Linked DNA regions of Homo sapiens: all the other regions are linked to region 3. The links come from fine-mapping of genetic effects on gene expression. A gene starts in region 3. Each other region holds a variant in brackets. All regions are shown on one strand. Distances are between the middles of the regions.

Region 1 (5,000 bases), 23 kb after region 3:
CAAAGCAGATTTTGTTGCCAGACGTCCTATGCCTATGTCCATTACCCAGAAAAATTCTTTTAGTTTCACGTGGCTGGGGAGGCCTCACCATCATGGCAGAAGTCAAAGGAGGAGCAAAGGCATGTCTTACATGGTGGCAGGCAAGAGCCACGTGTGGCTTTTGAGCACTTGAAATATGGCTACTTCAAAGGAGGAACTGATTTTCACATTTAACAATTTAAAACTAAATGTAAATAGGCAGGTGTGGCTAGTGGCTGTCATATTGGCCATTGAATATCTTGGCATAAAGGACACTCCATCACTCCTAACCTCAATCTTGATTCCTGCCAGCCATAGGAGGACAGCACCAAGCCTTCAAAAATGAAGAAGAGAAAAGGATCTAGCATAGGACTCTCATGTTCCATATCTGAATAAGGATCCTTGATGGGAAAAGAAAGTGTGTACAATATCCATAATTTTCTTTTTCTGTGAGCATTTTTGTTGCTTTATGCAACCCCTCTCACCATTTGCAGGCAGAAGGGAGAAGAGGAGATAACTGTTCCATGGGTTCTTATAAAACATGCCCAATCTCACTAATGCCCTGCAATCCCAATCATTTTAGGGTCCTATTCTCTCGGGCACCAATTATGGATGAAGGGAGACTACAAATTAGGAATCTCATCCTTTCCCTAAAATTCTTAGCAAGGTTATATAGGTCAACATACTTGTTGACCTATTATGAAACCAATGTTTGTGGCAAATGCTAGATGTTGAGAACTGACTGACGTCTGCTTCCTAGGATGGAAAGAGCAGCATATAGTGGGAAACAGAGAGCCAGTTAAATTTAACATAATGAGATGTAAGAAAGAGTCATGGGAGTCTGAGAGGTGAGATGGAGTCGTAGGGGCCTGAGGAATGACTTCCCTAAGATAAAATATTGAGTCTATGGCTATTAACATAAAATCTTCCTGCACAGCCTATGCTATCATCAGGCACCTACCTTATATTCATAGTAAAAATTCTGTTGTTGTTTTCCAGGGTATACAGGGAGCTACCCTGTGTTTCTGAGACCCTTTGTGACATCTCACATTTTTTCCAAGAAGATGATGAGACAGAGGCAGAGCCATTATTGTTCCGTGCTGTTCCTGAGTGTCAACTATCTGGGGGGGACATTCCCAGGTAAGAAAAGCTATTCCGTTGGAAAACTATTGGACGCTGTGTCTCAATATCACAGAGGAACATGAGAATTAGAGGAATTTGGGTGTTTTTCATCGAACTCAGGGGAGAATGAATGAGCTTATGCAATACTAGCAATGAATCCAGAAATTTTTGAAACAAACCTTAAGCAATGAGGTTTTCTTCCATGGAGGTGTCTAGAGAACCTATACACAAAAAGGCAATGAGCAATGCAATCGAAGACCAGTGGGTTATTGGTTAAGCTGTTACTCAATACATAAAACCAACCTAATTCTCTAGGAAACTGGCTGATGATGAGGCTGAAGGCCACAGTGGGGTCCTGAGGTTTAACACCGGGGAGGGGAGAATGCGTCTATTTGTAGGGTATGCCAATTTCCAAGGGTTGAATATCCCCATCATGGCAGATTTCAAACTACCAACGTGAAGCCCCTGATGAGGGAGTTGAAAGAACACATGCAGAAGTCTGTCATCCTGCTTTCACCACACAGATACAAGAGACATAAATAACCTCAAGGGCATAGACTGCTGAAAAGTGTAGAAAAATGACTGGAAATTGGTATGTTTTAATATGTATTACTTTTGTTTTTAATATGATTTATTTAAATGTTAGCTTGTATCATTTAATTTAGACTAATGGTTGTGTTGAACAACTTGGTTGCAAAAGCCCTGAAAATGGAACCGTCAGCTCTCATGATCTGGGATGCGCTGTCTGCAGTTCAGCGCTGGGTTCCTCCCACTTTCTAAACCCCTCCTCAGCAGGCAGACTCCAGCATGCACATGCACCAGGAAAGAGAATATAAAATGGCATGTTTACTCTTGCTGCTTTGCCTGTAGCTACCCGAATCCATAGCAAAATGTGTAGCCGCAGACAGCAACCAGTCTTAGGATGTCAGCCCAGGGGTCTCTCCATGCTTGGCTTGCCCACAGAATCCTTC[C/T]GAGAAAAGCGCTGTAAAGCCTTTCTCTTCATCCCACTTCTCTAGGTACCTGTTCTTTTTAAACCTAATCCACGTGTCAGTTTCTCTGCTGGTCTCTTTCACGTCGAAATAAACAGATATCTCAAGGAATGGATCAAAGGCAGAGAATTTGATGGAGTTGGTTGCCTTGCTCCAGAAGGTATCACCTGTGTTAGGGCAGGTTTCTCTCCAGAGGCATGACGAACCATTGGCTCACGCTGTATGTCATAGAACCCATATTGGCTAATATTGGAATCACCTGTGAGGCTTTGAAAGCGCCGATGCTTTGGTGCCACCTCCAGACTTCTGATTCAATTGATGTGGGCTGTGACCTGGTATTGGGTGGTTTTTAAAGCTTCCCAGGTGTGGTCAAGTTTGGAATTACCTTGGAATATAAATGCATACATTTTACGCATTGGTGAATTACTGCTTCAGTCTTTGATTCCGACATCGTATGATACCAATCGGAGCAATCAATTTAAGCCAGAGAATCTGGCTGTGTCCACATTGAACGTGGGCATAATACAAAGAGAAGAAGGAGAGATGTCAAGACACATTTGGCTCAAGGGAGTGTGTTATCTCTATTATTTATAAATGTGGATAAAAATATCTTCATTCAAAATGTCTTCTATTTCTTGATAGTCTAGATCCGCCCAGTCTAAGAGAACTTTCTGTGATGACGGGAGTGTTCCATTCTCTGCTACACAGTGTTATAGCCGTGAGTGATATGTAGCTGTTGAGCACTTGAAATATGGATAGTGCAACTGAGAAACTAAAGTTTACCTAAGTTTAATTCATACAAATTTAAATAGCATATCCGGGTAGCGGCTACTCTACGGGACAGTGCAGCTCTAGTTTTCAATAACATCGTCTTCATCTTCATCAACTGATTCTTGATGTTTTTCATCTTTTTGTAACATGGGGATCCCAACCTCCAGTGTATCAGAAGAGCAGGAATCTTCAGAGGGACAAGATTCAGGTAATGGGCTAATAGGGAGAGGAGTGAAGGGCGTGTGGATTGATGGAAATGTTCTGTGATTTTATGTGAAGAAGACAATTTAGAGTCTTTTGTGCAGATCAGGAGTGCTTTCCCTTACCTTTGCCACAGTGCACTGTGCAGTTTAAATGGGGACATGTAAGCCTGTCACTGCTGGGGCATGGAAATGCTCAGGGGAGTCAGTGGGTGGTCCTGGTGGCTGGGGACAGCAGCAGGGCCTAGGAAGGATGCACGCTCTTTCGCCTCTGCATCTTTGGAGTTCGATACTTTTCTGACCTGGACTTTCCTCACCAGCAGAAAGTGTCTTCTGCTATTTCGGACCAGTAGAAATGTAGGTGCATTGGTTCCAGTCCTCAGCAAATGGTGCCTCCCACCAAAGCTGTCCAGCCTGGCTTCCCAGAAAGTCTTATGGAATTTGGTGTATACGTTTAGTCATGACAAGGAACATTCTTGTGCCTTTCTTTGTCTGGATTCAAAGAAGCGAAACTGCATATTCTGGTCACTCTCAGCTCTCATTCGATATCTGTATCCCAACAGCACCTGTGCAATTCAGCCTCCAGGAGTCCTTCAGGCCATGCCTCTTCCAACCCTTTACCTCTTACATGTCTAGTATTTTCTTTTCAGGAGACATTTGCTCAGAAGAGAATCAAATAGTTTCCTCTTATGCTTCTAAAGTCTGTTTTGAGATCGAAGAAGATTATAAAAATCGTCAGTTTCTGGGGCCTGAAGGAAATGTGGATGTTGAGTTGATTGATAAGAGCACAAACAGATACAGGTAAGAATGGAAGATGCTGATGATTTGAAAACCACTCTGATATAAAGGAAGTGTGTAGGCCAGGCGTGGTGGCTCAGGCCTGTAATCTCGGCACTTTGGGAGGTGGAGGAGGGCGGATCACAAGGTCAGGAGTTCGAGACCAGCCTGGCCAACATGACGAAACCCTGTCTCTACTAAAAATACAAAAATTAGTCAGGCGTGGTGGCACCCGCGTGTAGTCCCAGCTAATCAGGAGGCTGAGAAAGGAGAATCTCTTGAACCCAGGGGGCAGAGGTTGCAGTGAGATGAGATCTCGCCACTGCACTGCAGCCTAGGAGACAGAGCGAGACTTTGTCTCAAAATAAATAAATAAATAAAAATATAAATACAAAAGGAAGCGTATCGGTTCCATCCCTTATGATAGCTAAAATTTCATCAATAATATGTTTATTTCATGCACTGTGAAGTTGGTATTTTAATTTCAACATATATAGAATGCAGAGAAATTGGGGCCCAGAGAGGTTAATGAACTCCCCAGCGTTTTCTAATGTAGTGAAAGTCGCAGATGGGTCCTGAACCTTGCCTCACTTCAAATCCCACCTCCCTCTGCACATCGCTGCTTAAATCCAAGTCCTGGGGTTCTCCCGTCATGACATCACTCTGGCTCCTTTCAGCGTTTGGTTCCCCACTGCTGGCTGGTATCTGTGGTCAGCCACAGGCCTCGGCTTCCTGGTAAGGGATGAGGTCACAGTGACGATTGCGTTTGGTTCCTGGAGTCAGCACCTGGCCCTGGACCTGCAGCACCATGAACAGTGGCTGGTGGGCGGCCCCTTGTTTGATGTCACTGCAGAGCCAGAGGAGGCTGTCGCCGAAATCCACCTCCCCCACTTCATCTCCCTCCAAGGTAATGTGGGGTGAGCGGAGGCTGTGGGGGCCGCTGGGGTGCGTGCCGTCTCACTGCTGTTGTGGTTCTCCTGCAGCAGGTGAGGTGGACGTCTCCTGGTTTCTCGTTGCCCATTTTAAGAATGAAGGGATGGTCCTGGAGCATCCAGCCCGGGTGGAGCCTTTCTATGCTGTCCTGGAAAGCCCCAGCTTCTCTCTGATGGGCATCCTGCTGCGG
Region 2 (7,866 bases), 28 kb before region 3:
AATAAGACAAAAATGGTATCATGGAGTATATGAATCCCAAGTCTAAATTGAATGAGGCTCAAAGAAGGCTTCACATTGAAAATGAGACCACGTGTATGTGAGTTATAATGAACCTGCTATATACCAACATTTATGTGGCAGAGCTGGGAGTGTGCAAAGAGGGATATCCTTCATCTTGTAGCATTTTTTTTTTTAGAAAGGAAAAACTGGAAAATCATGAACATTTACAGTGTTTCAGTCCTACTGTGCGCTCATTGTGCCTAAGTGAAAGGCTGGACCTGAAAGCTTTCTTTTTTTTTTTGAGACAGGGTGTCACTTTGTCACCCAGGGTGGAGTGCAGTGGTGCAAACACAGCTCACTGCTGCCTCAAGCTCCCAGGCTCAAGCGATCCTCCTGCCTCAGCTCCCCAGGTAGCTGGGACTACAGGCATGTGCTACCACTCCTGGTTAATTTTTGCATTTTTTTTTTTTTTTTTGTAGAGATGGGGTTTCTCCATGTTGCCCAGGCTGGTCTCAAACTCCTGGACTCAAGCAATCCCCCACCTTGGACTCCCAAAGTGCTAGGATTACAGGTGTGAGTCACTGCACCAGGCCTTGAAAGCTTTCTTATTTTTATTCCAGTTGTAGCCTCCCTTCAGGATGTGGATTCACATGCAACATGAGTGGTAAGTGTTTAAAGAGGTCTTTCCTACTTTTTTTTTTTTTTGAGACGGAGTCTCGCTCTTTCCCCCAGGCTGGAGTGCAGTGGCTCCATCTCGGCTCACTGCAAGCTCCACCTCCCAGGTTTACACCATTCTCCTACCTCAGCCTCCCAAGTAGCTGGGACTACAGGCACCTGCCACCACGCCTGGCTAATTTTTTTTGTATTTTTAGTAGAGACGGGGTATCACCGTGTTAGCCAGGATGGTCTTGATCTCCTGACCTCGTGATCCGCCCGCCTCGGCCTCCCAAAGTGCTGGGATTACAGGCATGAGCCACCGCGGCCGGCAGGTCTTTCCTACATTTTTTATTTCCGTAAGGAGTCTCTGCAGTGTGAGTTCTTGTATGAACCATGAATTTGAGACCACGCTGAAGGCTTTGTCATATTCCTTTTAGATTCGCAGTTTCTCTCCAGGGTGAGAACAAATGTCTACTCAAGATGAATGAAGATGAAAGGCTTTCTGTAGACTTTACCTTCACAGGGTTTTTTTTCACATTTCTGTAAGATACGAGAGTTCAGGGAAGATGTTCTCACTCATGCTAACCCCTTGAGCTCCCTTCCAATATGTCCTCCTCACATGTTTGGTACAGTCAGAAAATTAATGAAAAATTTTCCACCTTCCTTTCATTCACAGGGCTTCTCATCTTTGTGAGTCTTAAGATGTTTTTTAAGTCCTGACGACTTTGCAAAGTCTTTTCCACATGTCTTACATTTATAGGGTTTCTCTCCAGTGTGGCTCCTTATATGTGTATATTTTGAGGACTCCCGAATGACTTTCCCACATTCTTCACATTCGTAGGGCTTCTTCTGCACAACATGCTTTCTTAAATGTTTATTAAGGTGTAAGGAATATCTAAAGGCTTTCCCACATTTCCCACATTCATACGGTTTCTCTCCAGTGTGAATTTTCATATGTCTCATAAGGAATGACTGATAAAAAAAGGCTCTCCCACATTCGGGGCATTTATGGGTTTTCTCTCCAGTGCAATGACTCTTGTGTGAACCGGAATTTGGAGCGTTGGCAGAGGTTGCCCCAGTTTGACAATCCTTCTTGTTTGTCTCTGCGGTATACAACTGCATCTGCATGGCGTGAATTGAGTTATTTCTGGAGGTGTTCTCGCACTGAGTAAAATCATACATTTTCTCTCGACCATGAGTGTTGTGTGCCCTAAGGGATCCGTCTTCACGGAAAGCTTTTCCAAATGGATTCCGCTGGTGCCTGTTGGCCCCCGTATCAATTTCATCACGTATATGATGCACAGTGTTCTGACTGCCAGTCCATGTGCTTGATTTCAGCTCTGTTTTTCTCCCACACGGAACCCACTGAATGTTCCACCCCAAGACTCCATCGTCTTCGTTGTTTTCATGTGTTTTTTGACTATCGTTTAAGACAGGATTATACTTGAAAATACTTGAGTCACGTGTTAGGATACATTGTCTTATGGAATCTCCCTGTGAAGGCACAAGCCTGCAGGTAGGTTTAGAGTGGTTCCTCATTTCATGATCTTCACAAATGCTAACAGGAGATTCATCTTTCTCAGGGGCAACTGCAGGTGGCTTCACATTATTCACCCCCTGCCTGTGTGGTTCCTCTGTTTTGGGGCATCTCCAGTCTTCTCTTAATGTGGAGTGCTGGGAACTGATGCTCGTGAGACACACTCTGTTGGCTTCAGGAAATGTTCTTTTAGGAAGAATATCCGGCTGAGGGGTTGCGTCTTTGGTTTTACATGGAGTTGCCCAATCTGAAATACAGTGGCACAAAAGTTAAATTCTTTGTTGAAAGTAAAGGTGGGTTAGAGATGATGACATAGGCAATCTCCGTGTGGATTTCTCTCTTTCTTTCTTTCTTTCTTTCCCTCCCTCCCTCGCTCCTTCCATCCTTTCTTTCTTCCTTCCTTCCTTCCTTTCTTTCTTTTCTCTTTCTTTCCCTTCCTTCCTTCCTCCTTCCTTCCTTCCTTCTTTCCTCTCTCTCTCTCTCGTTCTCTCTGTCTTTCTCTCTTTTCTTTAGACAGAGTCTTACTCTGTGGCCCAGGCTGGAGTGCAGTGGCATGATCTTGGCTCATTACAACCTCCGCCTCCCAGGTTCAAGCAATTCTCTGGCCTCAGCTTCCTGAGTAGCTGAGATTACAGGTGCGTGCCACCATGCCTGGCTAATTTTTGTGTTTTCAGTTGAGATGGGGTTTCACCATGTTGGCCAGGCTGGTCTTGAATTCCTGGCCTCATGTGATCCACCTGCCTCAGCCTCCCAAAGTGCTGGGATTACAGGCATGAGCCAACGCGCCAGGCCTCTGTGTGGATTTCTTTCTAAATGTTCACTCAACATGTATGATAAAAATGTGAAGGGGAAGAAAGCAAGAGGAAGGAAGCAGAGAAAGACATCAGAGATTCTGCAGTGTCAGGAATGTGATGACGGTAAGGTCAGGGGTTCAACATGGAGAGTGTCATGTTACTGAGGAACAGTTCTGCAGAGATCAAGGAAACGATCAGGAATTCTAAGTGGAAGAGAATTGGACAGAGAGTCCATGTGAAATTTTTATTTTTTTGAGATGAGGGTGTCACTAGGTTGCCCAGGTGCTGGAGTGCAGTGGCTGGCTATTCATAGGTGTGATCACAGCACACTGCAGCCTTGAGCTCTTGGGATCAAGTGATCCTCTTGCCTCAGTCTCCCGAGTAGCTGGCTCCATGTGCAATTTTAAGGAGAAAAGGAACAGGCCTTTAGCAGGGAAAAATGAAAATATGAGAGGATGGATAAAAGTCAAAAAACATAAGCTTGGACAGGCACAGTGGCTCACGCCTGTAATCCCAGCACTTTGAGAGGCTGAAGTGGGTGGATCACCAGAGGTCAGGCGTTTGAGACCAGCCTGGCCAATGTGGTGAAGCCCCGTCTCTACTAAAAATAGAAAAATTAGCTGGGCATGGTGGCGTGTGCCTGTAATCCCAGCTACTCAGGGGGCTGAGGCAGGAGAATCACTTGAATCCGGCAGGCAGAGATTGCAGTGAGCTGAGACTGAGCCACTGCACTCCAGCCTGGGCAACAGAGTGCCTGTTTTTTTCTTTCTTTTTTTTTCCTTTTAATTAAAAAAAAATTGTTTTTAAAGACAAAAAGAACAGTGTTTTGCCATGTTGGCTGGGCTGGTCTCGACTTCCTGGCCTCAAGTAATCCTCCTCCTGCCTCAGCCTCCCAAAGTGCTAGGATTACAGGTGTGAGCCACTGTGCCTGGCCTATAGGTCTCCTTAGCTGCTCTGTAGATAACAACTTGAAAATTATAAAACATTAAGTTTTCTCTTTGAGATATTCCTTCAGGTCCTGCATTCTGATGAAATGACTATGCTCACTGATCTGAGGAATGCCGTGAGAAACTGACGCACCAAAGAATGTACTTTCCTCATCCCGATGATTTCATCCCCCTTCCTCTGACCAATCAACGTCTCCAATTCTCCAGTCCCTTATCCTCCATGATCCCCTTAAAAATGAGAGCAGTGGCTCATGCCTGTAATGCCAACACTTTGGGAGGCCGAGGTGGGCGGAGCACTTGAGGTCAGGAGTTTGAGACAAGCCTGGCCAACACAGTGAAACCCCGTCTCTACTAAAAATACAAAAATTAGCCAGGTATGGTGGTGCATGTCTATAATCCCAGCTACTCGGGAGGCTGAGGCAGAAGAATTGCTTGAACCCGGGAGGTGGAGGTTGCAGTGAGCCGAGATCGCGCCACTGCACTCCAGCCTGGGCAACAAGAGTGAAACACAGTCTCAAAAACAAAAAAAAAACAAAAACCCCAGAACCCCCCAGGGAGAAGAATTTGAGCGTCTCCTCCCATCTCCTCGGTTGGCACCATGTAATCATGCAACTTTCTCTTTTCTCTGTTGCAAACCCTGCTGTCTCAGTGGCGAGCCTGTTGCTCTGTTACCATGCTGCTGGCTTACAAACCTGTTGGTCCTGTAATGTTCACATCTACCTGGTACTGAGATGCATAAATGCCTGGACAAAA[C/A]TGCCCTGCACTGTTTTCAGACCACTTCTTGCTCCAAATGAGAGGGCAGACTGGGTTTGCCTAGTTGAAATCCTGCTCACTGGGCAAGCATGTGGTATAAAGGAACTGTGCCGAGACTTTCTGTCAAATGGACACAGGCTTTGGTTTGCTGGGGTTCTGAAGCTGATGATGTGTGAATAGAAGTGCAACAGTGGTCCCTCTACTTTTCTCATCAATGCACTAAAACTCTGCCAAAAGGGCTCAAAACGACCCTTTTCCTGTGCACCATGTTCACCTACATAAGGATCCCCCAAATTCTGTTCAATCACGAAGAGAATAAAAATGTAATGCATTAGCTGGGGGTGGTAGAGCATGCCTGTAATCCCAGATACTCAGGAGGCTGAGGCAGGAGAATTGCTTGAGCCCAGGAGGCGGAAGTTGCAGTGAGCCGAGATGGTGCCACTTCACTCCAGCCTGGGTGACAGGGTGAGACCCCATCTTAATGAAAAGAAAAATAAAGGCTGGGTGTGGTGGCTCACGCCTGTAATCCCAGCACTTCCGGAGGCCGAGGTGGGAGGATCACTTGAGGTCAGGAGTTCAAGACAAGCCTAGCCAACGTGGTGAAATCTGCCTCTACTAAAAATACAAACAAAAATTAGCCAGGTGTGGTGGTGTGCACCTGTATTCCCAGCTACTAGGGAGGCTAAGGCAGAAGAATTGCATGAACCTGGGGGGTGGAAGTTGCAGTGAGCTGAGATGATGCCGCTGCACTCCAGCCTGGGAGATAGAGTGAGACCCTGTCTCAAAAAATAAATAAAATAAAATAAAATAAAATAAAATATAAAATAAAATAAATAAAGTAATGCAACAAACTGACTTCCAGTTTCATGGTGAACCCTACACCTACTACCTGGGGGGCAGCAGCTGTGTCTCTGGAATTTAACCCAGTTCCCATTTTCCAATGCACTTCCCAGAACACGGTTCCAAACCAGCACTGGTCCCATCACGGACTAAGTGCAGGAAGGGGGCCTCCTTACCTATGAATGCCAAGTTCCTAGAATTTTCCAGCATCACGTCTCTGTAGAGATTCCTCTGAGCTGGGTCCAGCAGGGTCCACTCCTCTTTGGTGAAGTTCACAGCCACGTCTGCGAAGGTCACCGAGTCCTAAAATAACACATGCAGTTTGGCTCGGAGGGGTGTCCTGTTATCAGTTTGAACTGTGACCCCTTTCTCCACAGAAAAAGGTAGGTTGAGGTCTTAACCCTTGGTACCTGCAAAGGTGACCTGATTTGTGAACTAGAGTCTTTGCAGATGTCAATGAATTAAGATGAGGTTGTGGCCGGGCGCGGTGGCTCACACCTGTAATCCCAGCACTTTGGGAGGCTGAGGCAGGTGGATCACAAGGTCAGGAGTTCGAGACCAGCCTGGCCAGCATGGTGAAACCCCGTCTCTACTAAAAATACAAAAAATTAGCTGGGCATGGTGGTGGCGGGTGCCTTTAGTCCCAGCTACTCAGGAGGCTGAGGCAGAGAACTGCTTGAACCTGGGAGGTGGAGGTTGCAGTGAGCCGAGATCACACCACTGCACTCCAGCCTGGGCTACAAAGTGAGACTGTCTCAAAAAAAAAAAAAAAAAAAAAAGATGAGGTTGTACTGGGGGTTGGGTGGGCCCTAATCCAGTGACTGGTGTCCTTATAAGAAGAGGAAATCTGGCCAGCTGCAGTGGCGTATGCCTGTAATCCCAGCACTTTGGGAGGTTGAGGTGGGACGATCGCTTGAGGCCAGGAGTTCAAGACCAGCTTGGGCAACACAGTGACAACCCGTCTACAAAAAATAAAAAAATTACCCGTGAGTGTGGGCGGGTGCCTGTAGTCTCAGCTACCCGGGAGGCTGAGGAGGGAGGATTGCCTGAGCCTGGGAGGTGGAGGTTGCAATAAGCTATGATCCTCCCACTGCAGTCCAGCCTGGGCAACAGAGCAAGACCCTGTCTCAAAAAAACAAACAAAATATAAATTAAAAAAAAAAAAAAAAAAAGAAGGGGAAATGTGGACAGAGGGAGGGAAACAGAGGGAAGAATGTCATTTGGTGAGGGAGGCAGAGACTGGAGTGATGGGTCCACAAGCCAGGGAATGCCAAGGACGCCAGTGACTACCAGCAGCTAGGTAAGAGCATGGAACAAATTCTTTTTTGGAGCCTCCAGAAGGAAGCAACTCTGCCGCTATTTTGATCTCGGACTTCCAGCCTGCAGAACTGTGAGAAAATCAATGTCTGTTGTTTAAGCCACCCCATCTGTGATAGTTTCATCAGCCTGAACAGCCTAATGCAACAGGAAGAGGTACAGTCGATTGGTAGAGACTGACGTCCGGTCGTATGACTCAGGTGCTCTTTCTTCTGAGACAGGGTCTTGCTCTGTCACCCAGGCTGGAGTGCAGTGGTGCAAATGCAGCTCACGGCAGCTTCGAACTGCTGGGCTCAAGCGATCCTCCCACCTCAGCCTCCCAAGTAGCTGGGACAGCCAGCACACACCATCACCTGTGGCCCTGTCTCAGGAAAAAGAGTACCTGAGTCACGCGACCGGACTTCAATCTCTACCAGTTGACCAACTGTGTGTCTTTCTCATGCATTAGCCTGTTCAGGCTGTTATAACAAACTATCACAGAGGGGTGGCTACTCCTTAAACCCTGGCCGGGCATGGTGGCTCGTGCCTGTAATCCCAGCACTTTGGGAGGCCGAGGTGGGCGGATCACCTAAGGTCAGGAGTTCGAGACCAGCCTGGCCAACATGGAGAAACCCCATCTCAACTAAAAATACAAAAATTAGCCGGGCGTGCTGGCAGGTGCCTGTAATCCCAGCTACTCGGGATGCTGAGGCAGGAGAATCACTTGAACCTGGAAGGCGGAGGTTGCAGTGAGCCGAGATCATGCCATTGCACTCCAGCCTGGGCAACAAGAGTGAAACTCCGTCTCAAAAAAAAAAAAAAAAAAAAAATTTGGAGTGGGGCACGTCTCAGTCCACTGCTTGTCATCTGCAGGTCATGACAGTTGCGGGAGATGCTGCCACTGCCCGCTCCATAAACGCCTAGTGTCCCCTGTGAGACCCTGAGTTCCTTAAGACAAAAACACTTTCTTTTTATTTTACTTTATTATTATTTTTAGAGACAGTCTTACTCTGTCACCCAGGCTGGAATGCAGTGGAGTGAT
Region 3 (7,866 bases):
AGTCTCTGAAATGCAGAAATAATGGCATAAGCTGTCTCCTCTCTCTCTCCACCAGGGCTGCCAAACAGGGAGGGGCCCCCTGTCCGGTGGAAACGTGACTCATGTGACCTTATCAATCATTAGAGATGACTCACACTCCTTACCCTGCCCCTTTTGCCTTGTATCCAATAAATATCAGCACAGCCAGGCATTCGGGGCCACTGCTGGTCTCCGCATCTTGGTGGTAGTGGTCCCCCGGGCCCAGTTGTCTTTTCTTCTATTTCTCTGTCTTGTGTCTTTATTTCTACGATCTCTCGTCTCCGCACAACGGGAGAAAGACCCACAGACCCTGTAGGGCTGGCCCCTACACTGAATGTCTGTTTATTTATATGCATAATAATCAACTCACATGTTCCAACTGAACAAACCAAATATTTCTATCCAATTTTCAATAAAAATATAAAAATCTACATATTTCATGTGTTTATGTTTGTTATGTCTCTCACAGCCTGCAACAAATTTAATTTAGCTATCCTCTGAACTACAAGCTTCCCTTTGTTGTAACGAACACTTTTCTTTTACTTAAGTATCGTTATTCCAGAGTTAATATAGTATGCATTCAAATTACTTCTTATTTAGTATTATTTTACCTAGTACCATTATATATTTAATTTTTTCTCATGAAGCCAGGCACAGTGGTTTGTGCCTGTAGTCCCAGCTACTCGGGAGGCTGAAGTGAGAGGATCCCTTGAGCCCAGGAGTTTAAGGTCGCAGTGAGCTATGATGGCACCGCTGCATTCCAGTCTGGGCGACAAAGCAATACCTCATTTCAAGAAACAAAATGGAATCTTTTCCTTATAAGAATCTTAAAGAAGGTGTACATTATCTTGGCTAACTTTCTATAGGATTAAGTGGAAGTTATTGAGACTTGGTCTACAGTCTTCTTTTTTTCATGAGTCAAAAAGCATCTCTCACTTTAGTTACACCTGTATTAGGAGAGTTATGATCAATTACAGCAGTTGTAGTTTCTGAGAACTTGGATAAATACAAACCTGAATTACACAGAATTTATGTAAATCCAGATATTCAAAAATGAGAAATAATGTAATATATGACCAAAGTAATATCAAGACAACATACAATTAAATCACTCAACAATTACTGGGAATATGTATCAAGGCAAGAATTGTAAAATTCTACCTGGTACTTCTGAAATGAACAAGGCAATGAGAAATAACAGTTTATCTTGTCTATTACTGAGTATCAATGAAAGCAATAAGGTGAACGGAAAAGTCCATGCAAACTCCATTTTCAGAATAACGAGGAGACAGATAGAATTCACAGATCCACATGTTTCTCACTGGCTGACAAAACTGTGTTAAGTCAGGGTGAAGCATAGCGGAGGAACAGGGAGGAAGTGCAGAGTGAGAAAACATAAAGAAGTCAGGAAGTGCCAGAAGAGTAATTTCCTGTGAGTAAAGCCTCATACTCGGTGATTTATCGATAGAGTTTGAATACAAGAGCTGTGAGGTCTGGGCAGTTGGAGTGGAGGCTGAGCAGGAGATAAATGTGGTAGAGGCGGTGTGGTTGGGAGATCCTTGAAAACAGAGAAATGCCCTAGTATGGCAGAGTACAGAAATACTACAAAAACTCACTTGTAGAAAGAACATTCTGCATATAATCAGGCATGGAACGGTCCCATGCATTCCATAATAATTAAGAAAAAGATATTGGCAGAGCATTGCTTAAAGGCACTGCAAGAAAATAGGTGAGAAGACCAGTAAGTTTTATTTATTTATTTTATTATTTTATTATTTGTTTTCGAGATGAAGAACAATCAAAGGAAAATGATGGACGGAAATTAACAATCATTCTTGGGCGGGGGGAAAAACTCCACCCACAATTCCTAAGTAAAAAGGGTTACACACATTCTCGGCATAATAAGTCTCTCTCAGGCCAAATGTGTTCATGTGAACACTATGAAGGCATTCCAGCTGAGGTCAGGAAAATACCAAGTATGACCTTCCCTATTTAAGTTAAAATATTGGAAGCTTATTCCAAAATATTGGAATAAATTTGAAATACAGTGATTGAATGGAAGGACATTAAATTATAACTCATTAGACATGTTATTTTACTCTATAGACAAACACAACAAATCACCTGAAATAAGCTATAAAAGATAAACCAGTAAGTTAGAGAAATAATCTTTTTTTTTTTTTGAGATGGAGTCTCCCTCTGTTGCTTAGGCCAGAGTGCAGTGGCGCAGTCTTGGCTCACTGCAACCTCTGCTTCCTGAGTTCTAGTGAGTCTCCTCCTCAGCCTCCCAAGTAGCTGGGATTACAGGCATGTGCCACCATGCCTGGCTAATTTTTTTTGTATTTTTAGTAGAGATGGGGTTTCACCATGTTGGACATGCTGGTCTTGAACTCCTGACCTCAGGTGATCTGCCTGCCTCAGGTTCCCAAGTGCTGGGATTATAGGCTTGAGCCATTGCGCCTGGCCAGAAGAATCTTAATGTACAAAAATGAATAGGTTTTTAATACAACAGACTATCCCAATTCCTTGAAAGAAGAAAATACACCCATTAAAACAGAAACTATGGTGCCTAGAATTAAACTGCACAAAAAACTACATGACCCATATAATTTTTTTATGTTGAAATAATTTTAAACATGCAAAATTAGCAAAGATTCATATAAATCCTCAACCAGCCTATCCTGATGTTAGCTATATATATAATTGTATTATATGTATAATAGTTGTTATATATAAAACTGTATATATACATTTATTGTATTATAATCATATATATACATTTATTGTATTATATATAATATACAACTGTATATGTAATTGTAATATAATAATTATATACATAATAGTATATGTAATACAAGTATCCAACCAGGAAATTGATGTCAACGTATCTTACCATTACCTAATGTGCAGACCTTATTTGAATTTTGTCAATATTTCTCTTAACGTCCTCTTTCTTCTCCAAGATCGAATCGAGGATCTCACATTGCACTCAGTTGTTATGTCCTTAGATTCCTCCAGGCTGTGACCGTTTCTTATTCTTCCCTTGTCTTTTGTGATTGTGACACTTTTGCTGAGCATGGCCAATTATTTTACAGAATGTTTATCAATTTGGATTTCTTTGATGTTTTCTCACGATTAGGCTGAGGTCATGCATGTTTGTCTTCTGTGTTCAGTCAATATGCCCCATCCTTTTTCAAATATTTCTTCATGTTCTGGCGTCAGAATTTGTTCCAATGTTATCTTATATATTCCTGCCCCAGCCCTCGAAGTAACCATTTCTCCACAGATACTTCAAAATAGTATTTAGAAACCAAGGCCGGGCACAGTGGCTCACGCCTGTAATCCCAGCACTTTGGGAGGCCGAGGCGGGCTGATCTCGAGGTCAAGAGACGGAGACCATCCTGACCAACATGGTGAAACTCCGTCTTTACTAAAAATACAAAAAATTAGCCGAGCGTGGTGGCATGCACCTATAATTCCAGCTACTCGGGAGGCTGAGGCAAGAGAATCGCTTGAACCTGGGAGGCAGAGGTTGCAGTGAGCCGAGATTGCTCCATTACACTCCAGCCTGGGTGACAGACGGAGACTTCATCTCAAAAAAAAAAAAAAGTAATATTGATTAAAAATCAAATTGCATGAGAATGCATAGCAGGATACCAAGCAAATACAACTTTTAAATATTACAGAAAATGATATTTAAAATACAAACCAAATACATAAATCATGCAGGCGGATTAAGACGTTTCTGGATAGTGGTAACAGCTGAGAGTGGCTGGATGAATTCCAGAGAAATTTCATATATTGCTTCAATTTTATTTAAAATATACTATTACCTATGTCTTAGATATTTTATTTTAAATAATGAACAAGGATATTATAAACTCTGCAGAAGTAAGTGTAATCGTGTTTTTTTCCTGCCCACATTAAAGATGGCCCAGATGCTTGCACTGACCCCATTGACTGCCCACAGCCATCATGGCGACCGGAAGTCCTGAGAGCTTACTTCCCTCAGTTCTCAGAAAGCCCACCTCCTCTGCGAGCGTTATTTCAAAAGAAGTTGAGAACCAGAGAAACCGACCTAAGGGGATTCTCCCATTTGGCCCGTCCTACCCTAAAGTCACCACCTGCTGCTTTTCTGGAGCGCTTACCAGGTGAGTTTCAGGAGCCCTAGTGTACAGGAAGGAGAAACGGAGGCTTGTTGGTAGGACACCGCCAGGCTGCTCTGTGTTCTGTTCCTCTTAGTCAGCAAGGAAGGAGTACGACAAAGTGAGAAGTTCATATGAGCGTGTCAGAAGGGGAAATAGGGCCCCTCCCTTGTTAAAAACAAAACCCTCTGGAAGCTCGGCATCCTGTCATAACTTAAATTTATGACTTCAGTGACTTGGCTTGGACAGTCTTAATAATCTCTCTCACACTCAATTTGTTTTAATTTCTGTAATAATAATTTTTATACCAATGTTTATGTTGTTAATACTAATAATTTTACACTGTAACTGTATAACTTTAATTATTAGAAGTGTTAACCTAACTAACAAACATATGAAAGCTTCCTAAGGGAAACAATTTTTTTTTCTTTTTGAGATGGAGTCTCGCTCTGTGGCTAGGCTGGAGTACAGTGGCATGATCTTGGCTCACTGCAACCTCTGCCTCCCAGGTTCAAGCGATTCTCGTGCCTCAGTCTCCCAAGTAGCTGGGACTACAGGCGTGCACCACCACATCCAGCTAATTTTTTATTTTTTAGTAGAGACGGGGTTTCACCATGTTGGCCAGGATGGTCTCCGTCTCTTGACCTCGAGATCAGCCCGCCTTGGCCTCCCAAAGTGTTGGGATTACAGGCGTGAGCCACTGCGCCCAGCCGGAAACAATGTTTATTTGGGAATAGAGCATTGCAATTGGGAATAGACATGCCGTATTAAACTATGTGTATATTCAGGGAGATAAAGGAAGACAGAAATGGGGAGGATTGCATATTGTTTTAACAGAATTTTCCTTGGCTACAAAGATCAGTAACAAGGGTGACATTAGTCCTAGGTTGGACCAGCAGTTGCTGGGCAGCATTCCTTGCAGAAATATATATTTTTTTAAGGTTGTGAAGACCTTTATGTAAGGTTGTGGGTTTTGTAGAGTCTTTTTCATCTTCAGGCATGCAAGGATAAGAGCCCTCTCTTCATGGCCTTCCTGGCTCTATTTGTCAGGGTTATCTTAACATAAGTGACTCCATTTTGTTCTGACAACTTTCAGATTTCCCCTTGTGATCAAGAAGTTTCTCTGAAAGCACTCTCCTGCCTCAGCCTCCCGAGTAGCTGCGACTACAGGTGCCCACCACCACACCCAGCTAATTGTTTTTGTGTTTTTAGTAGAGACGGGGTTTCACTATGTTGGCCAGGCTGGTCTCGAACCCCTGACTTGTGATCTGCCCACTTCGGCCTCCCAAAGTGCTGGGATTACAGGGATGAGCCACCGCACCAGGCCTGCATTTCTTTTTTCAAAGAATTACTGTGGCATTTTTTCCAATGTCATTGTGTTCTGTGGTTCTTATCTAGTCTTCACATTTATTTACATAATGAACTTTCAATGATGGATTTCTACAGAATTTTTGTCACTAAGTGGTTGCCTAGAAGTATATATCCTAAGATTGAACATATTGAAATATGAGCTAACTTTTCTCATTCAATTATTGATTACTTAGTTAGTTTATTTATTATTTGGGGGATGGGATCTTGCAATGCTGCCCAGACCAGACTCAAACTCCTGGGCTCAAACTCCTACCTCAGCCTCCCAAGTAGGTGGGATTACAGGCATGTACTACTTCACCTGGCTCAATTATTTATTATTTATAACTCATTGTACATATATTCAGATAACTTAATCTGTGCATTAAACTCTTCCACTTTGTTGATAGTCATTTCTGTGTTTGCTATGTGGCTACATATGTATGCTATGTGTTTCCTCTATGCTTGAGATAGGATGATGGGGATTCTTCAATGGCTGTGTGAGTTGTTATTCTAGGGCACTTAAGTCAAGAATATGAATTGCTTTGGTCAATTTTTTATATCTTTACTGATACTCTGTTATTCTGTTAATTGCTGAAAGACTATTGAACAGATTTCCCACAAGAGTGGAGGATTATTCTATATCTGTTTATCATTCTACCCGTGTATACTATATACATATTGAAAGTGTGAATATGTATACACAAAATTAAAATTGTTATTCTTATTGAAGTGATCTACTTTATACTTAGTAATGCTGTTTAGGTAAAATATATTTTGTCTAATATTATTGGAGGTGCACCTGCTCCCCATTGATTACATTTTTACACAGATAGTCATCTTGCATTCTTTTATTGGAATCTTAATATAACTTCTTTGGGTTTATCCCCTGTAAGATGGAGGGAAATGCTCTTGAAGCCTAATTTGTCTGACATTCATATTGTTGCTCCAGATTCTTTTTAATAACCATGTATATGGTATATCACTGCCACTGTCATATGAGGGGTGGGGAAGTGGCCCCACTTGGAAACATTTTTGCAGATGAGTATTTAAAATGATAAATGTTGGCCAGGCACGGTGGCTCACACCTGTAATTACAGCACTTTGGGAGGCTGAGGCAGGTGGATCACGTGAGGCCAGGAGTTCGAGACCAGCCTGGCCAAATTGGTGAAACCCCGTCTCTACAAAAATACAAAAATTAGCCAGGCATGGTGATGCATACCTGTAATCCCAGTCACTGCAGCTCCCTGCACCTGTACTCTCACACACCACATTCTCTTAACCAGTCCTATTCTTTTTAGCTCCTATCATGTGTACATATACGTTTTCCTGTACCACAAACATTCTGTATAATCTCTTGTGCTATTATGTTTTATCTGTTTAGATCATGGATGTATGTCCAACCCATTAAATAGTACCAAGAATAAGGAACATGTGCAAAATGTATTTGTGGAATGAATACAAGAAGTGCCATAGAGCAGTGCAGTTTAACAGAAATATAATCCAAGCCCCAAATGTATATTAAATTTTCTAGCAACTGCATTTAAAAAAGCAAAAACAAGCAGATACAGTTAGTTTAAAAATACCTATGTAGTTGTATATGTATACACATATGTGTGTGTGTGTGTGTGTGTGTGTGTGTATATACTGATAAGGCCAGTGCGGTGGCTCACACCTACAATCCTAGCACTTTTGGAGGCTGACACAGGCGGTTCACTTGAGGTCAGGAGTTCTAGACCAGCCTGGCCAACGTGGGGAAACTCTGTCTCTACTAAAAAATACAAAAAAATTAGCCAGGCATGGTGGTGCACACCTATAATCCTAGCTACTCGGAAGGCTGAAGTGGGAGGATTGCTTGAATCCAGGAGGTGGGGGCCGCAGTGAGCTGAGATCACACCACTGCATACTCCAGCCTGGGTGACAGAGCAAGACTCTGTCTCAAAAAAAAAAAATTATATATATTATATATATTCTTACATATGTTTTACTTACATATTTGTGTATATGTATTTTATTTAAATATGCATATATATGTAAACATAACAAAACATATACATACGTTTTACCCAAAATGTCATAATTTAAACTTGTCAGCAATGTGAAAGTTATTAAGATAATATTTATATACTGTTATTTATATTGACTTCAAAACCTGAATGCTTTTTAAATTTATGATACACCTCAATTCAAACTAGCCCTAATTCAATTGCTCAATAACTGCATGACTTTTTCTCCACAAAAGTCATCATGGAGACTTCCCAGCTGCAGAAGAAAGTATGGGGTTTGAGATCAGCCATTGAATGCTCCCTGAGAGCTGATCATTCTTGTCTTAGAGAGGAAGAGGTAAATTAGG
Region 4 (7,866 bases), 250 kb after region 3:
TGTTGCCTCACTGATATGCAGCCTCCAGCCTCTCTCCTCTACAAGGCTGAGCTCTTTTTCTCTTTTTGTTTTTTTCTTTTTTCTTTTCTTTTTTTTTTTGAGACAGGGTCTTGCTCTGTCACCCAGGCTGCAGTGCAGTGGCGCCATCATGGCTCACTACAGCCTCCATCTCCCATCAAGTGATCCTCCCACCTCAGCCTCCCAAGTGGCTGGGACTACAGGCACGCATCACCACACCCAGCTAATTTTTAAACTATTATTATTGTTTGTAGAGACGAGGTCTTGCTATGTTGCCCAGGCTGGTCTCAAACTCCTGAGCCCAAGCCATCCTCCTGCGTAGCCTCCTAAGCACTGGGATTACAGGCAAGAGCCACTGTGCCCAGTATGGGCCCTTTCCTGATGCATGCTTTATGCATCCACTCAGGAATGAGTATTTATTGAGCATTTAAAAGATGTGGGGCCAGGGCTACACGATGAGTATGCAGCAGTGGGTAAAGCAGGCATAGGCCCTGCCTTCGTGGGGCTGAGAGTCAACCAAGGAGACAGATATGAAGCGAAGAAACCAGAAACAAATACAACTCTTCGCTGTGATCATTGCTGTGGACGAGTCTCAGGAACAACTAGGACAAGGTCACTTTTGATTGAGAGGTGAGGGGAGGGTGCTCTGAGAAATGACAGGTAAGCTGACACCTGGAGGAACAGATGGAGGAGGGAGACGTGAGAGGAGCTGGAGGTATGGGGGTGGGGGATACATCCAGGCAGGAGAAGCCGACGTGGAAACTGCCTGAGATGGAAAAAGCTAGATGTGCTCAAGGAGCAAGTGGGACCCGCATGGCTAAGGCCCAGGCTGGGCACAGTGGCTCATGCCTATAATCCCAGTGTTTTGGGAGGCTGAGCAGGAGGATGGCTTAAGCTTAGGAGTTTGAGACCAGCCTGGGCCACACAGTGACACCTCGTCTCTACAACAAGTGAGGAGGAGCAAGGCCACAGAGATGCATGGTGAGATGGATGGGACCGGACCCTGTAGAGCCTCCCTCAGATTCTAAATGCAACCAGAAGGCCAGGTGTGGTGGCTCATGCCTGTAATCCCAGCACCTTGGGAGGCCGAGGCGGGCAGATCATCTGAGGTCAGGAGTTCATGACCAGCCTGGTCAACATGGTAAAACCTCATCTCTACTAAAAGTACAAAAATTCCCTCCACATGATGGTGCGTGCCTGTAATTCCAGCTACTCGGGAGGCTGAGCCAGGAAAATCGCTTGAACCCAGGAGGCAGAGGTTGCTGTGAGCCGAGATCATACCACTGCACTCCAGCCTGGGCAACAGAGGAAGACTGTCTCAAAAGAATAGAATAGAATAGAATAGAATAGAATAGAATAGAATAGAATAGAATAGAATAGAATAGAATAGAATAGAAGCAACCAGAAGCCACGGGAGGGGTTAAAGTGAGGAGGAGTGGGCCGGACACGGTAGCTCATGCCTATAATTCCAGCACTTTGGGAGGATGAGGTGGGCAGATCGTCTGAGGTCAGGTGTTCGAGACCAGCCTGGCCAACATGGTGAAACTCCATCTCTACTAAAAATACAAAAAAAAAAAAAATTAGCTGGGCGTGGTAGCAGGTGCCTGTAGTCCCAGCTACTCAGGAGGCTGAGGAAGGAGAATCACTTGAACCCAGGAGGCGGAGGTTGCAGTGAGCCGAGATCGTGCCACTGCACTCCAGCCTGGGTGACAGAGCAAGACTCCATCAAAAAAAAAAAAAAAAAGAGCAGGGGTGGCATTTATTCATTCAAAATCCTCCATCACCTTTAGAATACAATCCCTAGTCCATACTGTGCCTTCCCTCAAACTCATTTCTTATCTTCCTTCCCCTCCCTCGATCTGCCTTTTAGTTGTTTCCTGCAGAAGCCACCTCAAGGCCTTTGCACTCGCTCTTCTCTTTGCCTGGGATGATCCCTTGACCCCAGCTATTTGCATGGCTTGCTTCTTTGTGCAATAAAGAGTTCTGTGCAAATTCGAAGAATTGGTAGCAACTGATGGTCTGGAAGGTTTATGACTCTGCACAGACCAAGTTATGGATATTCATAGAAAATATTTTAGGGGCCATTCAAAATAATTATTCAACTGTAAAACAAGCCCTAATAGCCAGACACCCATGTCTCGTCTGGAACATCCAGGTGAGGACCAAGTTATGCTTTGGGCACTGGCAGGTTCAGATGCTTGGAGAACCCTCTGTCCTGAGCCCCGGGGTGGTTGGGACCAGCATCCTGCCACCGCTGCTGTTTCTTGGCTGGTCGGAAAAAGGGTTGCTGTGGCTATGGAGTCAAACCACAGGAAAATATGGGGATAGTTTTTCCAATCATCAAATGAGGGAGAATAAACTCCACCTTGGGATCTTATACATGCAGCAGATGCTGGAAAGCACTGTGTAAATGTCAGAGGGGGCATACAAGCCAGATATTTTCATTACTATTTATGAAGACAGCATACAAGCCAGAATTTTTGTTTGTTTTTGAGATGAAGTCTTGCTCTGCACCCCAAGCTGGAGTGCAGTGGCACGATCTTAGCTCACTGCAACCTCCGCCTCCCCGGTTCAAGCAATTCTCTTGCCTCGGCCTCCTGAGTCACTGGGATTACAGGCACGAGCCATCACGCTCAGCTATTTTTTTGTCTTTTTAGTAGAGACACGGTTTCACCGTGTTGGCCAGGTTGGTTTTGAACTCCTGACCCCAAGTGATCTGCTTACCTGGGCCTCCCAAAGTGCTGGGATTACAGGCATGAGCCACTGCGCCCGGCCCAAGCGAGATGTTTTAATTACTATTTATGGAGATGGGGGAGAGACAAATTTTGCCACCTCCTCTAAACCCTTGACTACCTGCAGTGTCATGCTTATATTCCTGCCTGGCCCAAAACCCCAATTCCTACACCTTAATTGGTTCATTAACCTCAAGCTTTCATTTTGACCCTTCTCCTCAAGATTCAAATGAATAATTTTTGGCTTAGATGCTAAGATCCAGACAGGCAGAAGGTTATAATGCCAGAAAGAGCCTGCCCTGGAGCCCAACCACCTGGGTTTCCATGCTTTGCCTCTTACTACCTTTGTGACCCCAACAAAGTACTGAGTTTCCTGGGTCTCAGTCCTCATCCGCACAGTGGAAGGGATGGTGATCACTGTTGCTGCTACAGAATGTTAGTGTCGTTCATAGACGCTTGGTGGGTAGAATAATACCCACCCAACACAAATCTGTCCACGTCCTAATTCCTAGAGTCCACGAATATGCTAGGTTGCATGGCACAGTGGATTTTGCGGGCCAGTCATGGTAACTCATAATTGTCATCCCAGCACTTCAGGAAGCTGACGCAGGAGGATCACTCAAGCCCAGGAGTTTGAGATCAGCCTGGGCAACATAGTGAGACCTCGTATCTACAAAAAATCTTAAAATTAAAAAAAAACAGCCAGCATGGTGGCACATGCCTGCAGTCCTAGCTATTCGAGAGGCTGAGGTGGGAGGACTGGTTGAGCCCAGGAGGTCGAGATCAGCCTAGGTAACACAGTGAGACCCCTATCTACAAACAATCTTAAAAAAAAAAAGAAAGAAAACTAGCATGGTGGCACATGCCTGTAGTCCTGTCTACTCAAGAGGCTGAGGCAGGAGGATCACTTGCACCCAGGGTTTTGAGGCTGCAGTGAGCTATGATCCAGCCTGGGTGACAGAGCCAGACCCTGTCTCAAAAAAAGGAGTGTGGAAGACTTTGCAGATGTCATAAAGCTAAGGATCTTGAGATGGGAAGATGATCCGGGATTCCCCAGATGGACCCAATGTCATCACAAGGGCCCTTATAAAAGAGAGGTGGTGGGATGCCGAGGCGGGTGGATCACAAGGATCATGAGGTCAGGAGATTGAGACCATGCTGGCCAACATGGTGAAACCACGTCTCTACTACAAAAAAAAAAAAAATTAGCTGGGTGTGGTGTAATCCCAGCTACTCAGCTGTAATCCCAGCTACTCAGGAGGCTGAGGCAGGAGAATCTCTTGAACCAGGGAGTTAGAGGTTGCAGTGAGCCAAGATTGCACCACCACACTCCAGCCTGTCAACAGAGCGAGACTCTGTGTCAAAAAAAAAAAAAA[C/AAC]AGAGAGAGAGGCAGGAGAGTCAGAAAACCAGGTGTGACAACAGAAAGCAGAGGTTAGAGTTATGCCAGGAAGAGGCCACGAGCCAAAGAATGCAGGCGACCTTTAGAAGCTGGAAGAAGCCAGGAAGCGGATTCTTCCCTACAGCCTCCAGAAGGAATGCAGCCTGGCTGGTACCCTGATCTTAGCCCCAGTGAGACTGACTCACAGAACTGTAAGAGAACAAATGTGTGTCAAGTCGGTTAGGTGTGTGGGGATTTGTTACAGCCACTGCAGAAAACTAATGCACACACAGGGGGCTGAAAACCCTGCCTGCCACATAAAACGTGCTTTGTAAATATTAATCGTTATCATTTTCATTATCTCTGTCCCATTTGAATCAGCCATCCTGGAACAGGTACGGAGCAAAGGTGTCTAACCTTAGGCTCCCTCTCAAGCCAGCTGTGTGGCTCCATGGACACACGCACAGCTCGGAGTCCTCATCTCCACAATGGAGAAATACGTAAGTGGTTGTGGCTTCGGAAAAGGGTAGCCTGTATACGAATTTCTGCTCATCCGTGTGACCTTCAGAGTGTTATGGAATGTATTTGACTCTCAGCTTTCTTTTCTATATATGAGACAACTGAAATCTATCCCGTAGGACTGTTTAATAATGAAATGAATGTAATCCCGGCACTTTGGGAGGCCGAGGAGGGCGAATCACAAGGTCATGAGTTAGAGACCAGCTTGACCAACATAGTGAAACCACGTCTCTACTAAAAATACAAAAATTAGCTGGGCGTGGTGGCACGCACTTGTAATCCCAGCTACTCAGGAGACTGAGGCAGGAGAATTGCTTGAACCCAGGAGGCAGAGGTTGCACTGAGCCAAGATCGTGCCAGTCTTGGCTCACTGCATTACAGCCTGGGCAGAGTGAGACTCCATCTATGGGGGATGGGGGAGGGGGCAGGATTTTTGGGGGGCGGCCGGGGTGGGGGAAGAATGAAATGATACAATGTAAGCAGAGTTCTTGGCACATGCTGAGTGCTCAACAAATAATCATGGTAAACATAGGCTGGGCGTGCGGGCTCAGGCCTGTAATCCCAGCACTTTGGGAGGCCAAGGTGGGAGGATCACTTGTGTTCAGGAGTTCAAGACCAGCTTGTGCAACGTAGTGAGACCCCCTCCTTCTCTACAAAATATTAAAAATTAGTTGAGCAAGATGGTGCACACCTGTAGTCCCAGCTACTCAGGAGGCTGAGGGGGAAGGATCACTTGAGCCCAGGATATTGAGGCTGCAGTGAGCTATGATTGCACCACTGCACTCCAGCCTGAATGACAGAGCGAGACCCCATTTCCTAAAAAAAAAAAAAAAATCACGTATGTGATAAATATTTGTTGTGTTCCTCCTACTATGTGGAGTTGTCGGTAGACTGGACAGGTGAAATTCCTTCTTGCATGAGGCTAATATTTTACTAGGGTGGGAAAGACAAAATACAAATGAGGTTTTCTGACCAGGGTGGTGGCTCACGCCTGTAATCCCAGCACTTTGGGAGGCCGAGGTGGGTGGATCACTTGAGGCCAGGAGTTCAAGACCAGCCTGGCCAACATGTTGAACCCCATCTCTACTAAAAATACAAAAATTAGCCAGGCGTGGTGACACATGCCTGTAATCCCAACTATTCCATAGGCTAAGGCACCAGAATTGTTTGAAGCCAGGAAGTGGAGGTTGCTGTGAGCCGAGATCACACCACTGCATTCCAGCCTGGGTGGCAGAGCGAGACTCTTTCTCAAAAAAAAAAAAAAAAAAAGAAATGAGGCTTTCAGTATGGGGTGGTGACAAGTTCCTGGAAATAGATAATGGTGATGATGGTGCAACATTGTGAATGTGCTTGTCGCCACTAAATTGTGCACTTTAAAATAGTTAAAATCATAATCTTATGTGTATTCTACCACAGTAACCAAAACCAAAATCATTTCAGAATATGAAAAGTGCAATGAAAAAAAATAATAAACAGGGGAATGTAAACAATCATGCCTGACAGATGTCTCCTTTGGTGGTCAGGGAAGGCCTCTCTGAGCAGGTGATGTTTGAACCAAAACCTAGAGTCAGCCACACACAGTGTGAGGAACAAGCATTCCAGGCACAGGGATCAGTGAGGGCAAAGCTGCTGATGTGGGAAACAATGTGACATGTTCTGACGCACAGAAGGGAGGGCCACATGGCTGGACCCTTCATTTTTCCCCTTAGGGTGGGCCTCCCGCATGCGCAGTGCCTCCTTTAGGCTTGGGAAGTGAGCATGCGCGGTGTGTTTACTGGACTTGTACACAAGCTCGTCTGAGACTTTCTTCCCTTTCCAGTGAAATGTCCCCCAAAAGGTTGGACTCTGCATTTTTTTTTTTTTTTTTTTTGAGACGGAGTCTGGCTCTGTCACCCAGGCTGGAATGCAGTGGCGCGATCTCGGCTCACTGCAAGCTCCGCCTCCCGGGTCCACGCCATTCTCCTGCCTCAGCCTCCCGCGTAGCTGGGACTACAGGCGCCCACCACCACGCTCGGCTGATTTTTTTGTATTTTTAGTAAAGACGGGGTTTCACTGTGTTAGCCAGGATGGTCTCGATCTCCTGACCTCGTGATCCGCCCGCCTCGGCCTCCCAAAGTGCTGGGATTACAGGCGTGAGCCACCGCGCCCCGGACTCTGCCATTTTGTCTCTTAATGCGCATGCCCGGGCTCATTAGCCCAATCCCTGAGATTGATTGATTGATTGATTGATTTTTTTTCTTTTTTTTGAGATGGAGTCTCACTCTGTCACTCAGGCTAGAGTGTAGTGGCACGATCTAAGCTCACTGCAACCTCTGTCCCCCGGTTCAAGCGATTCTCCTGCCTCAGCCTCCCGAGTAGCTGGTATTACAGGCGCCTGCCACTGCACCCGGCTAATTTTTGTATTTTTAGTAGAGACGGGGTTTCACCATCTTGGCCAGGCTGATCTTGAACTCCAGACCTCATGATCCACACACCTCAGCCCCCCTAAGTGCTGGGATTACAGGATTGAGCTACCGCGCCCAGGCCATCCTTGAGATTTTACTGGAAGCTGCTGACTACCAATTTTGGAGTAAGTGCAGAGGAACGAAAAGATGGTGACACTAGCAAACCTAGGTCAGAGCCTTGTAGTTCTCAGCAAGACACTGCATCTGTGTTCCCCATGCACATACATGTACAGAGTGTTTTCCTGAGCGGGCATGTGAGAAGCCACTGATATCAATCACCTCTGGAAGTGGGAACCAGGGGTAAATAGGAGACTTCTTTCCAATTAAGTTTTTATCACAGATGTGTGACTTATGTCTTTAAAAACAATTTAATTATGTATATACCTAGAAGAGAAGAGTTGCAATATTCCCAACACAAAGAAATGATAAATGTTGAAAGTAATGGATATCCTAAATACCCTGATTTGATCATTACTGTCTGCATGTATCAAAATATCACATCAGTGGCTCACACCTGTAATCCCAGCACTTTGGGAGGCTGAGGTGGGAGGATCACTTGAGACCAGGAATTTGAGACCAGCCTGGACAACAGAGTGGGACACCATGTCTATTAAATAAATAAATAAGGAAAAGAAAAAAAATCACGCGTACCTCAATAAATATATACAATTGTTGTGTATCAATAAAACATTTTAGAAACAGTAATTATACATGTATATGCACATACATAATGTGTATATACATATACGTGCACATGCCTGTATACATTATAGATGT

Evidence for each region. PIP is the estimated chance that this variant, and not a neighbour inherited with it, causes the effect.
Region 1: its variant is fine-mapped to the expression of CARD8 in blood mononuclear cells (TOPMed, PIP above 0.99). The same link has a PIP of 0.9 or more in tibial nerve and whole blood.
Region 2: its variant is fine-mapped to the expression of CARD8 in whole blood (Lepik 2017, PIP 0.95).
Region 4: its variant is fine-mapped to the expression of CARD8 in monocytes after R848 (Quach 2016, PIP 0.95).

The regions. Positions count from the first base shown.
Region 1 is chr19:48,230,561-48,235,560 of GRCh38, reverse strand. CARD8 (caspase recruitment domain family member 8) reads left to right here. Exons shown (of 14, transcript NM_001184900.3): 6 at 1,018-1,158; 7 at 3,068-3,108; 8 at 3,751-3,901; 9 at 4,555-4,784; 10 at 4,861-5,000. Among named protein-coding and RNA genes, the nearest start is that of CARD8-AS1, 23 kb to the left of the region's middle. The variant C/T (reference allele first, on the strand shown) is at 2,112.
Region 2 is chr19:48,280,336-48,288,201 of GRCh38, reverse strand. It overlaps ZNF114 (zinc finger protein 114), which reads right to left. Exons shown (of 6, transcript NM_153608.4): 5 at 5,705-5,831; 6 at 594-2,441. The coding sequence ends at 1,324. Among named protein-coding and RNA genes, the nearest start is that of ZNF114-AS1, 12 kb to the right of the region's middle. The variant C/A (reference allele first, on the strand shown) is at 4,689.
Region 3 is chr19:48,252,098-48,259,963 of GRCh38, reverse strand. It overlaps CARD8 (caspase recruitment domain family member 8), which reads left to right and starts at 4,052. Exons shown (of 14, transcript NM_001184900.3): 1 at 4,052-4,172. CARD8-AS1 (CARD8 antisense RNA 1) reads right to left here and starts at 4,289. Exons shown (of 2, transcript NR_040599.1): 1 at 4,170-4,289; 2 at 1,770-3,613. It also overlaps the pseudogene VN1R97P. RefSeq lists enhancers at 1-29, 3,944-4,183.
Region 4 is chr19:47,997,436-48,005,301 of GRCh38, reverse strand. All of the region lies in intron 1 of ELSPBP1 (epididymal sperm binding protein 1), which reads right to left. Among named protein-coding and RNA genes, the nearest start is that of ELSPBP1, 6.7 kb to the right of the region's middle. The variant C/AAC (reference allele first, on the strand shown) is at 4,127.